Linked DNA regions of Homo sapiens. Changing the gene in region 1 together with any one later gene gives a genetic interaction. Each region holds a gene or a part of one and is shown on either strand. Other genes may lie near its edges.

Region 1 (7,671 bases):
GGAATTTTCTCTTTTCTGCTGATTTACACTTTATTTTCTATGCATTTCTGGTCATTTCTATATGTGTATAGATAATTTTCATAACACTATATATGTTTTCACTGAAAAGAACCTGTTATTTAGGAATCTTCACAAAGAGTGAAGAGCATGACAAAAAGTACATAATAAGAGAATAGTGCAGGTTTTATACTCCTTATTTGCATTTAACTGTTTTAACAACTATCACCTCAAAATAAAAAGGAGGTGAATAGCAAATTTGTTAAGTTTTTGCTGTTTGGAGACAGTAAGAGATGAAGAGATGCTACTAAGCCCTCTGAATACCAAACTGGAATAATAATAAAGCTGTCTTTTAAAATAACATGCTTGTGCCTGTCAGTAGCTGCTTTATTTGAGTTTTTCATTGCTTTGTTTATATTAGTGCCCCCTCCCTCCTGGGTGCCTCTAGAATTAAACAAGCAGGTATTTACCACCAACTTAATCTTTAGTTTTAAAAATATAGACCAAACTCTAAGGTTCTCTAAATTTTTTATATTTATTTATTGCAGAAAAATATACAAAGATATTTACAAAACAATCATAAAAATATGAATGCATTTAGACACCGGATCTATTTGCATTTTACCATGGGTCCTCAATAAATAAATAGAATGTTGTTTTTTGTATTTTAAGTTTTTTTTTGTTTTTCCCCTCAGAGGAAGGATGAAAAAAAGAATTAACTGACTATGGTTTTGCAGGCCAGTTTGATCCCAGTATTTTTATTTCTAAAGGTGTTCTTATAGTTCCTCTGATTGTTACCATTTTAAAATAGAGAAAGTCCATAGTGATGCCTTTCCTTTCAGTGGCTGATTGGCACGACCTCTTGAGAATGCATGCATGAAAAAAATAAAAATAAAAACATTCTTCGTCAAAAAAAAAAAAAAAAAAAACACAAACAACTGTTCAGACTTCTATCAGAATGCAGAGGTGTGAGGATGGTGCCGCTGCCCGTCTGGGAATCACTGTCCACGGGCCTGTCTCGCTTTCTCTTTTAAAAGTGCGCCCCACGCCCTGTTTCTTTGAATTTGGATTTTGCTCTTCTAATTTCCAAGAAAATCTTTGGCATATATTTTTATTTTTAGTTATCCAGCTCCAGAGTCTCTAGACTGTCCATTTTCTCCTTCTCTGGAAACAATGACATCTGCAAAAACCCAGAGGGGGGGGGGGGAGTCGGTTATTGTTTAGGTCTCTGCGGCTGTTTTCTAAGACTAGTGAGCACTGTTCTTATCACCACCACTGAGAAATTAAGCTGAACAACCTGGAAGGATTTCAGCCCAAGGGCAAGAGGAAGTGGGTGGGTGGAAAGGAGGAGGAGGTGGAATTTGTTTTAAAACATTTGTTTTAAGGAGAACAAAAATTGAAAGCCGAAAGAAAGGGTGGCGCTGACAAAACGGTCCTTACCCGTGACCCTGGGTGTCTCTGTCTCCCCTCCTGTCACGCACACTCACGCGCACACACACCCCTCACCAGGGCGCATCCCCCTGGAGACTGCTCTCCCTAGCGGGGTCAGACCGGCCTTCCGGGGACGCTGGGGGCGCGAGGCAACGGTGCCAAGTGAGGTGGGAAGGCTGAGCGGAGAGTGGGAGAGGGGAGGAAATCGAGGTGGACTGGGAACCGCGGCCTGGCCGGCCTGCCGTCTGCCACCTGAGAGGCGAAGGGGTGCAGCGGCGCGGTCCTTACCTAGGTCTCCGGCCCTGCTGAGGGGGTGGGGGGCTCCGCCTGCTAGTGGGACGCGGACATGGACCAGGCCCCCTCCATCCTCCAGACCGAGAAGGCGTAGCTGAGCCGCTCGTGAGCCACATAGCTGCAGCTTGCCATCTTGGAGTCCAGCTCGTCGCTCTGGAGGACCTGGTAGAGGAAGTCGATGTACCTGGCCGCCAGCTTGAGGGTCTGAATCTTGCTCAGCTTGTCCGAGGGCAGCGTGGGGATGATCTTCCGCAGCGCGGCGAACGCCTCGTTCAGCGACTGGGTGCGCTGGCGCTCCCGCACGTTGGCCATGACCCGCTGCGTCTGCAGCTCCTCGTAAGACTGCGGACTCCCGCCGCCGCTGCTGCTGCCGCCGCCGCCGCCCGCGCCGCCGCCGCCGCCACAGCCCGCAGACTTCTTGCCGCGCTTGCCCTGGGCCGGGCTGCCCGGCTCGTCGCCGCCTCCGACGCCCCCACCCGCGGCTCCGCCGGGCCCCGCGCCGCCGCCCGCGCTGCGCCTGCTGCTGCGCCGCTTGCGTCCCCCGCGCTTGCCGCTCGGCGGCTGCTGCCGGTCTGGCTCTTCCTCGCTGTTGCTCAGGCTGTCGTCGGCCGGCGAGACTGGCGAGCTGGACACGTCCTGCATCATCTCTCGAGCGGCGACGCGTGGCCTCGCGGGCCCGGGGCAGAGGAGAAGAGCGGGGCGCCTCAGCCCGCCAGCTTCCCCCGCGCGCGGCGCCGGCCCGGGCGATGCGGCCCGCGGAGGAGAGAGCAGGAGGACGGACGGGAGGGACCTCCGCGGGGAGGGCGCGCGGGGGAGGCGGGGAGGGAGGCGGGAGGGGGAGGGGACGGTGTGGATGGCCCCGAGGTCCAAAAAGAAAGCGCCCAACGGCTGGACGCACACCCCGCCAGGCCTCCTGGAAACGGTGCCGGTGCTGCAGAGCCCGCGAGGTGTCTGGGAGTTGGGCGAGAGCTGCAGACTTGGAGGCTCTTATACCTCCGTGCAGGCGGAAAGTTTGGGGGCAGCAGTGTCATTGGCCTGACGTGAGGAGGAGGGACTTTTCGAAGTTTTATAGGAAAGTTTCCGCTTTCCAGTCCCCCTCCCCCGTCCCACCTCCCTTCCTCGGGGTCTAACAATTCGTCCTCCCAAACCATTCAAAAACGACCTGGCCCGGGCGGCCGGCCCCTCCACCCGCCTCCTAGCCGCCCTCCCCCTTCCCTCCCCGTCGCCTTCCTCCGGCGGGCGCGGGGCGATTTCCTTCCCCGCCGGAGCGTGCGGGCAGCGCCCCCGAACCCTAGCGCAGCCCAGGAAGCGGTCGGAGGAGACTGTCCTGGCCGCGGTGGCAGCCCCATCCGGAGTGGCTGTGACAGCAGCAATGGCAACAGCTTCTACACAGTGGGTGATGTCTCATCTCGCCCAAGAGCCCTCTAGGTCCGTGGGGCCGATTTGGGATTGCTGGGGCTGGGGGGGTGGTGTGGCGCGGGGTGGGGGGGCATGCCAAGAAAAGTGTCAACCGCGGAGCCCACCCAATGGTCAGGTAGACGAACCCCTTGGAGTTCCAAAGGCCAAACCGCGGCGGCCCAGCCCGGAGGTCCTGGGCGTTTCTGAAGACGTGGCCGCGCCGCGGGGGCTGAGGATTTGCGTCCCGGCCTGCTCTCTCGCCCTTCTGGGCCCTCCTTTCCCCTCTACAACGACCCAGTCTGACGCTCCCCAACATCCAAAGGACTACGCCTCGGAAGGTGCTCGAAAGAGGCAGAAGTTCACTCTTCGGTGGAAGGAAACCCAGTCCATGGGAAAGGCAGCAGAGCCAGAGGGGGGCAGCGCAGCGCCTTTGCTGCGGCCCTAACAGCTGGCAATGCCAACCCAAGGGAGAGACCCTGTGGCCATTTCATCCCCACCCCCAAATTAGGCTCCGCATTGTGACCTTGAAAGGCCAGCTTGTAAGAGAGTGAAGTGGGAATTTGATAGCGCCTAGACATAGGGGCTGCCCGCTCTGAGACCCCCCCCGCCCCAGCCCCCACTATCTAGGGCATCCAGTGGACAATTAGGCTTCGTGAGCCCCAATTCCAAATGCTTGGATACGCTAACATTTTAAGCATTTCTGTCTGTAAGTTAAAACGAAGAGCCCCAAAGAGGGTGTTAATGTAGATCCTGGCAAACTGGAAGCAGCAAAGTTGGTGAACCAGAAAGGAAGTCGCCTTGGATAAGAAGCCCATCTTTTGCAATGCCATACTTGTTTCCTTTTTGAAATGAATTGAGGTAAAATAACCGTTTCAGGTCCATCCCTTACATGGCAAAGTAAAAAGCTGGAGTCAGTACACAGTGTTGGGGTGGGGGCAGCGTTTGGGGGCGACGAGTTTTGTGCACCGCGCTGGAGTACCCTGCACATAAGGTCCGCTCATGGGCTTCTCAGTACGGACTCGCCGGCGGGAACAATTAATTGAGCAAAGCGCCCCTTTCTGGGCTGGAGCAAGGTTCGCGGCTGCAGATATCTCAAGCTGAAGGCAAGAGCCCAGGCGAGGCGCAGGCAGGCCACGTGGCTGTTCCCTGCTGAGACTCGCAGCTTTGGTCTTGGAAACCTCAGGGTGTGGAGCTGCTTGGGCCGACTGAAGGGTTCAGCTTTTTGGGAGAAGTGAGGGCGAGTGTTATTTCTCCAGCGAGGTGTAAACAAGACTGTGCTTTCATGGGAGGGACAAATTGCAGAGTTGATCCCTTACCATTTTTACAGAAATACTCAGAAAGTGACTACAGCTTGTCAACTGGCCTGTTTAGTGAGCCGCTGCCTTACTGTAAAATTGTCTGAAAATCAGATTCGACTTGACCTCCACTTAATTTCAGTAGCACTCTAGCAGTTCTCAAAACAGTCACCCCTGCACCCTTGCGTTTGCATCTTCCGCTACAGGATTTTATCTCTTGGAAGCGCTTAGAGAATGCGGCAGAAATTCTGCCCCACTCTCCACCAAGTGTTCTTTTTGTAAATCTGAATTTACAGTATTCTGCAATTCTTATTTAGAACGTGGCTGCAGAAATCTCGAAACCTTTTCCACTTCAGCTATTTTTTTAAAGATAAATCTTATTTTTGTTTTGTTCTTTTTTTCTCTTTTCTCAAAAATAAATAAAGAGATCGAATGATTGGACTCTTTCCTTTGTGGCCACGGATAAGTAAGACAGGAAAGTGTGGGTAAAGTGTAAAGGAAATCTTACCTGACCAAGGGGAATTTGGGAAGGGGAGGGGAGCGGACAAGCTAGAGGAGAAACCAAGTCCACAGCAGCGCAGCAGCCAGGGGTCATTAGCCAGTCCATCTTGCAAAGTCATCAGTCTCAAAGACTGGTTCTTAAACAAGTGAGCCCAGCCCTTTTCCCGGCACTAAACTTCTAGCTGATGAAGAGCTCCTGGCCATTGGGTACAGGGATCCCCGCAAGGCTCAGGCGACGCTCTGATGCCAGAATACTGAGAGGGGAATTCAAAATGAACACCTAACCAGAACCATCCTGCCCATGGACTCTTTCAGCCACAGTCACAATTGATGACTAGTTCTAAGAAGAAATGGCTCTTGAACTGTTCCGGGGAGTGGAGGATGAGACGACTTTTGAGTTCTTAAGTGGGGCTTGAATGTTACTTTTGGAGCAAAAGTAGTCCAGGAGGTACCTCTCAAAAAATGGCTGGAGCTAGATACTCCCTGCTTTGCAAACTGCAACACGCCCTGGCTGACGAGTCCAGTCTGCTCATATACAGCTCTTTCTTATCTAACATTTTACCTAACAATTTTCTTTTCCACATTTGCAAGGATGGCTCCCTTTTTACTTGTTGACAGGTCAGGTATAATTCTGGATTCTCTTATATATGCAACAATAATTGCAACTTCTGCAATGTTTAGTTTAAATTTGAAAGCTTCTTTCTAAAATCCCAATCTTGAGATCATGAAAACAATCTTAGAAATTTTCTTTTGAGGCTGAAGTTAGCCTAACTGGAAGTATGTCAGTGGGGACTACCTTCTTTGGGAATGCTAGATTAACTGGAATTCAGTCATTTTGCCTCCTTCTAAAGTAAAGTCCTCCCCAAAAAAATTTAACTGAAAAAAAAAATTTCTTTTGTACTTGGATAGTTCAAAACGATCTTTGTTTTCAAACTGCAAACTTGGCATGTTTGCAATCCTGCCTGAGGAATGTGTGCTGTGTTAAAAATTGAAACAAAAAATACTGTTAAAAGTAACAGAGTTAGAAATCTCACATTGAACATATACAATAAGTATTAAGTATCCTGGCAGTTTGAATATGCTGTGACATTCTCTTAGCAACAACCAATTATAAATACTTTTAGATACGGAAAAGAAACACACACTATAGAATGGTTAGCCAACTGGTAAATTCTGGAGTTTGGGCTTGCATAAAAGGTGAGTACCTCAATCTGTTCCTACTCTTCTTTCTCCTCAGACCTTAGATGGCCTATCACCTGTTTGTTGGCTCCGAGTTCTGAGAAATAATTTATCTGAATTGCATAAATAGTGCACAGGAGCATTCGCACGGAAGGGAGTGAAAATTAGAAAGGCTGCAATTGAGTGAATATCAGATGAGGTTGTATATCTTAGATTTCATCTTGCTTTGAACACTCCAGAGGGACTGCTGTTTAAATGAGAGAATTTTAGTAAGGTGGAATATAAAGTCATGTATGTCAACACAATAACTGTGTAAAAGCTTATTCTTCTTTCATGACCCTGGTAGCCTTAATGATGTTTGAACACCTTTCCCTATATAAAAACTCATTCTCTTTCTCTTTAAATGATGATTTGATTCATAAACTCAACTGATTCTACATTTTTCTATCTGAATATCTTTAAAAGTAAAAAAAACAAACTAAAGTTATAAAATGTGAAGTTTTCAATCCAGAAATAAAACGAAAAAGTAAAAAACACAATAAATTAGGGTGCGAACAGTACCGCAAGTGAAATTTTCAAATAAATGTTAATCTTTAAAATAGCTGACATTCTGAACTCAGCTTAAGGATGGGATGAGGAGACATAGGTCTAACCTGTAGAAAGTGCAGGATCAGAATATGGAAAAGTATGGAGTCTTGAAGAGCATTTTTTTTTTTCATTTTTTTTTTCAGGGGTTGTGCAGGCTGGAGAGTTGGTGTCTTAGCTGCCCATTAACCTTGTTGGAAAACACACTCACTTCACTTGTATCAAAGAGTTGCTGGAATAACTGATGAAAGAATGCAAGAAATAAATAGTTATTCATAGGAACTATTATCATGGTCTCAGTCTTTCTACATAGCATTATGTGTCTTCTTTTTAATCATCCGATGACCAGTAATTTAAATATAAATGGAATGATTTACATTCTATGTTTTTTCAATTCAATTTCTCTTTCTGATTACTCATAACTTTCACCTTTCTTCACTGGAAGGGATTTCCGTTTTTCACAAATGGGTTTTCCTGAAGCCTTATGTCCTGCTGCTATTGTTTGGTTTGGTTCTTTCTGCAGAAAACATGTTGTTTTTGCCAGTCACCACAAGAGGACACAATTTCCCAGATAACTTTGTTTAGAAAGAAGCTCAGAGAAGAGGAAAGCTAACAAAACAGCAAAAATAACACACAATTAATGAATATCATTTGGAGATGTCTATTTGATTTATGCCATTTTTATTAATTAAAAAAACATGAGTTAGCATTCAAACTTTTGAAGATTTTATAATTTGTACTTTCTTAGAACATAAAGAAAATATACTAAATATACTAATGTAGTTAAGGGAAAATGTTTATTTTACGTTGACATAATTTTGTAGAAAACTCTTGGTGACTTTGAATTTTACTTAATTCCATGTTTGGCAATGAAAAACAGTTTATTTTTTTTTTCTAAAAGATTTTTCAAAATGCCATTAACAGTTTGAATTTCTACTTCAGGCATTTGGGTTGTCTTTACATTGAAAACTATATGAAAACTATGTTTTAT
Region 2 (7,022 bases), on another chromosome or scaffold:
TTAATTAAAGCAAGGGTTTTGTGTTTCCTGAAAGAATAAGATTATGTCAAAGTTTTACCTATCCTAGTTATATAAATATACTTTTTGGGGTGTTCCTTATTAACCAACTAAGAAAGAGGGACATGTCCTAAGTTTCTATAGAAACTTCCTTCATGTAGCCCCTATCTCGCTAGACCATCCTTTTATCTGAACTTTTTAGAGCTAGGTCGCCTGCACAAGATGTCATCAGCACTCCCATCAGAACAAAATACCAGTCACCTAAGAAGTGCCTGAGGTTTACAAATAGAGAACAGAGTATGTGCAGAGGTGCTCTGGAACTGGCACAGCCAGTGCCAAGGAGGGGTCAGGGAGAGCAGGAAGTCATGGACAAACATGGTATGTGTCTCTGAAGAGTTAAGTCTTACTCCAAAATATTACAGAAACATTATGAAAAAGAATTTAAAATTTACATATACAATTTGCAAAATTCCGCATTATGGAATCCTTCCCTCTGTCTAAAGCATCACTCTGAATTGTCACAGGCATGGATCACAGTCCCCATAGGCTACTGGGCTATGTATGTTAAAATAAATTCAATTAGAGAAGTTTAGTTCTTTAGGGTTTCGTGGGTTTTTTTTTTTTTTTTTTTGAAATGGAGTTTCGCTCTGTTGCCCAGGCTGGAGTGCAATGGCACGGTCTCGGCTCACCACAACCTCCGCCTCCTGGGTTCAAGCAATTCTCCTGCCTCAGCCTCCCAAGTAGCCGTGATTACAGGCATGTGTCACCAGGCCTGGCTAATTTTGTATTTTTAGTAGAGACGGGGTTTCTCCATGTTGGTCAGGCTGGTCACAAACTCTCAACCTCAGGTGATCCTCCCACCTCAGCCTCCCAAAATGCTGGGATTACAGGCATGAGCCACCATGCCCGGCCTAGTTTTTTGTTTTTTTTTTTTAAGCAATGGATTTTCAAAGTTAACCTGTCTTATATCCCAATAATTGCCCACAGACCTGGGCAATAATGGCACCTAGTTAAGATACCAAAACCAATATTTTGATTATGAAGAAAGCAGAACATCTTAGTGTTACATTCTCTCACTGCTATAAAGAATGAAGCACAGGAGAGTCATCAGCAATGTAAAATATAAAGTTTCATCATCATTAACAAGAAAATTTGTAAATTGTTGAAAATTACTCTTAGCACTTTCAGACATGAAAATCAGCTTGGTGAAGCTCTGTATCCACAGCAAGACAGGTGCAGTAGTATTCGGTGGATGACTATGGCTGACTTTCACTATCTAAGCAGTTCCTCTTTCATTTAAAAAGGAAATAAGGAAGAAGGAACAGAAAGTACCACTTACGGGTCAAAGACGAGCCGTGTGATGTATTCTTTTGGCATTCGGGGCAGCTGGTGGGAGAAAACGTTCTGTAGGCCAACCAGCCACATCAGGATCTTCTTGTTTGGTTTCTGGTTGAGGGAATTGCCAACCACGTGAAATTCAATTACACCCCTGCGCTCTTCCAACCTTGCCGCCTCATCCCTGGCCGAGTGTGCTGACAGAAAATTGGTCTGAGATGCAAGAGACAGGAAAAAATTACACAGAGCTATTCTCTCAAGACAGTGGGGATGGGACACATCCAAGCTTCTCATCTTTGTTCTAATAAGATACACATTTGTGGATTTTCAGAGTCCTAAATACACATGTGTGCACACATACACACAGAGACACATACACATACAAGTTATGAAGACAAGACAGAAAAGGCAGGTAAAGCATTTTGAGAAATTGGAGTATTATATGTGTACACGGATGATATTCAGTGTAGATTAGGGGCCAGCAAAGTTTTCTGTGAAGGGCCAGATAGAAAATATTTTAGACGTTGTGAGCCATAAGGTGTTTGTCACAACTACTCCTTCTTCTGCTATAATGCAAAAGCATCCACAGACAATATGTTAAAGAATGGGTGCAGTACTGTTCCAATAAAACTTTATTTAAAAATACAGTAAGCAGACAAAATGTGGCCTGTGGGTTATAGTTTGCCAACCTCTGGCTTCAAGGAATCCTCTCCAGCTGAGCTTTAAGGACCCTTGAGATGACAGATTCAAATTCTCATTACAGGCCCAATAGTAGCACTCATGTATATATTCTTTTTTTTTTTTTTTTTTTCTGAGACGGAGTCTCGCTCTTTCGCCCAGGCCAGACTGCAGTGGCGCTATCTCAGCTCACTGCAAGCTCCGCCTCCCGGGTTCATGCCATTCTCCTGCCTCAGCCTCTGGAGCCTGCCACGGCGCCCAGCTAATTTTTTGTATTTTTTAGTAGAGACGGGGTTTCACCGTGTTAGCCAAGATGGTCTCGATCTCCTGACCTCGTGATCTGCCCGCCTCGGCCTCCCAAAGTGCTGGGATTACAGGCTGAGCCACCGCGCCCGGCCTCATGTATATATTCTTAACACCTCTTTTTAAAGAACAGTTTTCTTTCCAGAGAATATCTGTTGACCTACACTCAACCATAGCTGGAAGCACAACCATGTGCCAGCACTTATGCTCCCCATCTTATTTAATCTGCCTAGTGGTTTGCAAGTAGATGCTCCACAAACAGCTCTTCAAGGAAGGAAGGCCCTAACTGGTGACACTTCATCTCATTAGTCCAGAACTGGCTATCCAGGTAACCAGGTGCCATGCTAGTCAACTTCAAGCTACCAACATATGGAACAACCAGCTCACAAAACTCCTGAAAATTTAACAATTTTCTTGTGCATTCCAGTACAAGCCAGCTCTAGTACACTACTAAATATTAATATATCCAAAATATTTTCAAACATGTGACTGCATCCTGATGTAGTTTGAATGTGTGACCCCTCCAAATCTCATGCTGAAATGCAATCTCCAATGTTGGAGGTGGGGCCTAGTGGGAAGTGTTGGATCATCAGGGCAGACCCCTCATGAATGGCCTAGCACCATCCCCTTGTTGATGAATGAGTTATTGCTCAGTTAGTTCATATGAGATTTGGTGGTTTAAAGGGGTCTGGCTCCTCCTCCTCACTCTCTTGTTCCCTCTCTCACCATGTGATGTGCCTGCTCCCACTTCACCCTGCACCATGAGTATAAGTTCCCTGAGGCCTCCCCAGAAGCTGAGCAGATGCTGATGCCATTCTTGTACAGTCTGTGGAACTGTGAGCCAATTAAAGCTCTTTTTTAAAAAAATAAATTACCCAGTCTCAGGTATTTCTTTGTAGCAATGCAATAGACTAGTACAAATCCCCATTTTATAGCTGAAAAAAACCTAAACTCAGCTAATCTGTAATGTTACTAAATCCCTAAAAAACTATAGTCTTAAGCCCTCACAGACTGGACATCTAGGAGGAAATGGAAAGATCAATTTTAGGAAGAGATTTTTCTATTACAACATTCTGGTTCTCTGAAGTATCCTCAATGTCATAAAATAAATATTTAAAGAAACATGACAAATTGAAAATTAACACTGTAATATAATCTCCAAGCCATTTCTTCATTTCCTGGAAGCTGTCAGAAATGTCTTAAGACAGGTATGTCTTAAGAAATGTCATTGCCTTGCATGCCCTCAGATGCAAGGCAATGAGATGACAGCAGCATTTTTACCAAAAATGCCTTACTTGAATCTAATCCTTAGTAAACAATCAACAAATCCAAAAAGAGGGACCTTATACAAAACTAGCGACCAAGACTCTTCACCAATGGCAGTGCTGCAAAAGACCAAAACAAGGCTGGGGAGTTGTTTTAAAGGAGACTAAACAAATGAAGAGATAAGAATTAAATGCAATGCACAATCCCTAACTGATCCTTCAACAACAACAAAGGTTATAACTGACATCATCTGGCTATATGGGAAATTTAAATACGGTTTTATATTAGGCCAGAGGTCAGCAAACTTTTCAGTGAAAAGCCAGATAATAAATATTTCATACTTTGCAAGCCACACATTCCCTGTCTCAATTATTCAAATTTACTGTTGTAATGCAAAGACAGCTGCAAACAATATGTTTCAATAAAACTTTATTTGAAAAAAACAGCCAGTGGAGCAGATTTGGCTTGCAGGCTGTAATTCACCAACCCTGTATTAGAAAATATTGTAACCAGGCTAAATTTTCTAAGAGTAATGACTGCATTGTGGTTATGTAAGAGAATAGCTTCCTTATGAGATACAGTACATGCAAAAATAGTTAGGGGTGAAGTATTATGACATGTGTTTTTAATTCTGAAATGGTTCCAAATGGTTCATGGGGAGTGGGGAGAGAAAGAAAAAGAGCATATGGGGAGGCGCAGAGAGAAAGAGAGGTAGCAAATGTGGCATAATGTTAACTGCTGAATCTCAGTAAAGAGTCTATGGATTTTTATTACAGAATTTCTGCAACATTTATGAGGGCTTGAAATTTTTCAAGATAAAAAGCTGGGAATGATGCCTTCAACTGTGAGATTATTAGTAAGTGGACCTGTGATGTGATATTCATCAAGGGGAATTACCTCTTGATCAGTTGTTCCTGCCCTCTCCACACTGACCACCAGGTTAAATGCAAACCAGGGTAGCATAACATGTTAACTCTCAGCATTAGCATCCCCACTTCTGACAGCTGGAGTGGCCAGGAGAGCAGAAGAGGTCTACCAGCTGGCTGCCCAGGTTTACCCTGCTGACCTCTGGTCCAAGCATTGCTGCAGGGTCCGTGATGGTAGACATAACCTCGTTGATTAATTCCATCGGAATATCCCCCATAACTCGGGGTTTCTTGGCCTCCTCCAGAACATGAGAATCAGTCATTTTCCTCTTTTCTCCTATGATGATCAAAATAAAAGGCAAACAATGGGTGGTTCTAAACACAAAACAAATAATACACGCCAACTAATTTTCTAACAGCATTGATGGGCATGGAGGTCAACTCTATCTTTACCACCAGGGGAAGGGGTGACAAAGGAAGACAGGAAAGAGAGCCATTGTGAGCTCACAATAACTGCCAACCCAATTCATTGTGAATATTTTCTACTTTCTATGATGATTTTTAACTAGATACATGAAATATTAAGGCACATGTTCCTTCATCTGCAAATGCAAAGGGGTGATTCTAGCTATTGTTTGTTAGTACTCTCTAATATAGTCTCTTCAAGGTCAGAGAACATGGTCCATATGACACCAAAACGTCAAAATGGATTGAAATTTTTACCTTATGACCTAAAATAAGACCAATCTTTTGTAAATGTGCAGTGTCTTCTTGGAAAGAATGTGTATTTTCATATTTTGATCTCTATAACTCCATTAGCTTCAGCTTACAGATCATGTTGTATGGATATCAGTAAGAGCCTTACTGATATTTTTGTCTGTTTGACCTATGAATTACTCAGTTGTTTGTTTAAAGCCTCAACCGTTGGTTGATTTGATTATTTCTCCTTGTAGTCATGTTAATTCCACCCCGCCCCCACCGGCACCCCACCATATATGTACGGAAATCAGTTTGCATTAGGCTTTGGGCTTTATTGGTTAGTTATTGCTATGTAATAAACCAACCCCAAATGAGTCTTAAACCATAATAACTTACTATCATAGCTCATTCATTTCGTATGTTTCCTGATGGGTGGCTGATTTCAGCTCATCTCATTCAATCTTGGCAGGCTTGTTCATGAGTCTACCCACTGATTGGAATCTCTGTGCTGGGCTTGGCTATACACACACACACACACACACACACACACACACACACACACACACACACACATATGCATATGTGTATGTATGCATATATATTATGTATATATAGCTATATATTTGAAATATACCATAAATTATTTTTAATAAACAAATTTATGGATTTAATTTTCTATTATAAAATGACACACTTTATCTTTTACAATGCTTTTTTGCCCTAAAATGATGCCTCACAAAGTGAGCAGGACCACTAGCCTATCAAGTAGATGCAATCTCACCATTCCACACAATAGGAGAGCCATGCAAAGGCAGAGAGAACTTTCTTCCGCTTTCCTCATGAGATTGCATGGTAGTTTTTTTCTCCTTTCTATTCTCATGTTTGGTTTTTCCAGTTTTTTCCAGACATAACATGTATTTATTTTTACAAGTAAATTTTTTGAATTTTTAAGATGTCTAGATCTAATTTATTTCCTCACATGTGAATCCCACTGCTATCTCAATATAACATTCTCCACATAGCATTCTCACTATCTCTAGTTGAAAAGGAGCAGAACAGTATAAAGTAACTTGACTGTAGACGATTCTTCCAGAAGTATTACATATTATTTACTAAATCACTTTTGTCGAGTTCTTTTTTTTACAATTTTTTGTTGTTTGTTTTTGGAGACAAGTAACAATATTTTCAGACATCTGACCAATAAGTCCTCAAATTCCATGATTCCCTAAGAGTAATGCTGAAAACTATTTATTTCGTAGCTGGGGTTTGTACTTGATATGCCCTCTGCTTGTTAGACTGCTAATGGTGTTTATGATTTTTTTTAAAAAGTCTGAGGCTGAATCCAAGCTCACTGGTAAAGAGTTTCTGCATGAATTAGTGATATCTCCCTTGGAAGTGAAAGGGAATGGTGGCATATGCTAAATATATGGCACTTCTTATATTATAAGGTCCTCTTCTTTCCCTCTTTCATGGTACTTCTTTTATTTAAAAATTTGGTCACATCCAAGATTTGTCTGACGTCAAGTCTGTGGACAGAAATGCAACCTTCAAAACATTCTCTAACTGTGAAATGCTTCTAGGCTCAAGAGATATTTTTGCCCATGTGGTAGATTACATTAATGGCCAAATTCTTTACCCTCCTGGTATCTACACTCTTTGCTATGTGACTTTGCAGTTATTCCTACGAAAGGAATAGACTACCTTTTTCCACTTCTCCACCTCTCAACTCTGAGTTCAACTACGTGACTTGCTTTGGACGACAGAATGAGGCAGAAGTCAGCAGGGTATGGTGGCTCACACCTATAATCCCAGCACTTTGGGAGGCCGAGACAGGTAGATTACCTGAGGTCAGGAGTTTGAGACCAGCCTGACCAATAT

Evidence for each region. Genes that interact genetically often act in the same process or in processes that back each other up.
Region 2: of TWIST1 (region 1) and KAT2B, changing one suppresses a phenotype caused by changing the other (phenotypic suppression), as found in Homo sapiens cells (one study listed by BioGRID).

Annotation. Positions count from the first base shown.
Region 1 is NC_000007.14:19,114,955-19,122,625, forward strand, and holds TWIST1 (twist-related protein 1), read right to left. Parts: upstream 2,683-7,671; 5' UTR 2,368-2,682; coding exon 1,759-2,367; 3' UTR 1,717-1,758; intron 1,178-1,716; 3' UTR 514-1,177; downstream 1-513. UniProt on the Homo sapiens protein: Acts as a transcriptional regulator. Inhibits myogenesis by sequestrating E proteins, inhibiting trans-activation by MEF2, and inhibiting DNA-binding by MYOD1 through physical interaction. This interaction probably involves the basic domains of both proteins.
Region 2 is NC_000003.12:20,120,428-20,127,449, reverse strand, and holds part of KAT2B (histone acetyltransferase KAT2B), read right to left. Parts: intron 4,783-7,022; coding exon 4,646-4,782; intron 1,546-4,645; coding exon 1,337-1,545; intron 28-1,336; coding exon 1-27. UniProt on the Homo sapiens protein: Functions as a histone acetyltransferase (HAT) to promote transcriptional activation. Has significant histone acetyltransferase activity with core histones (H3 and H4), and also with nucleosome core particles.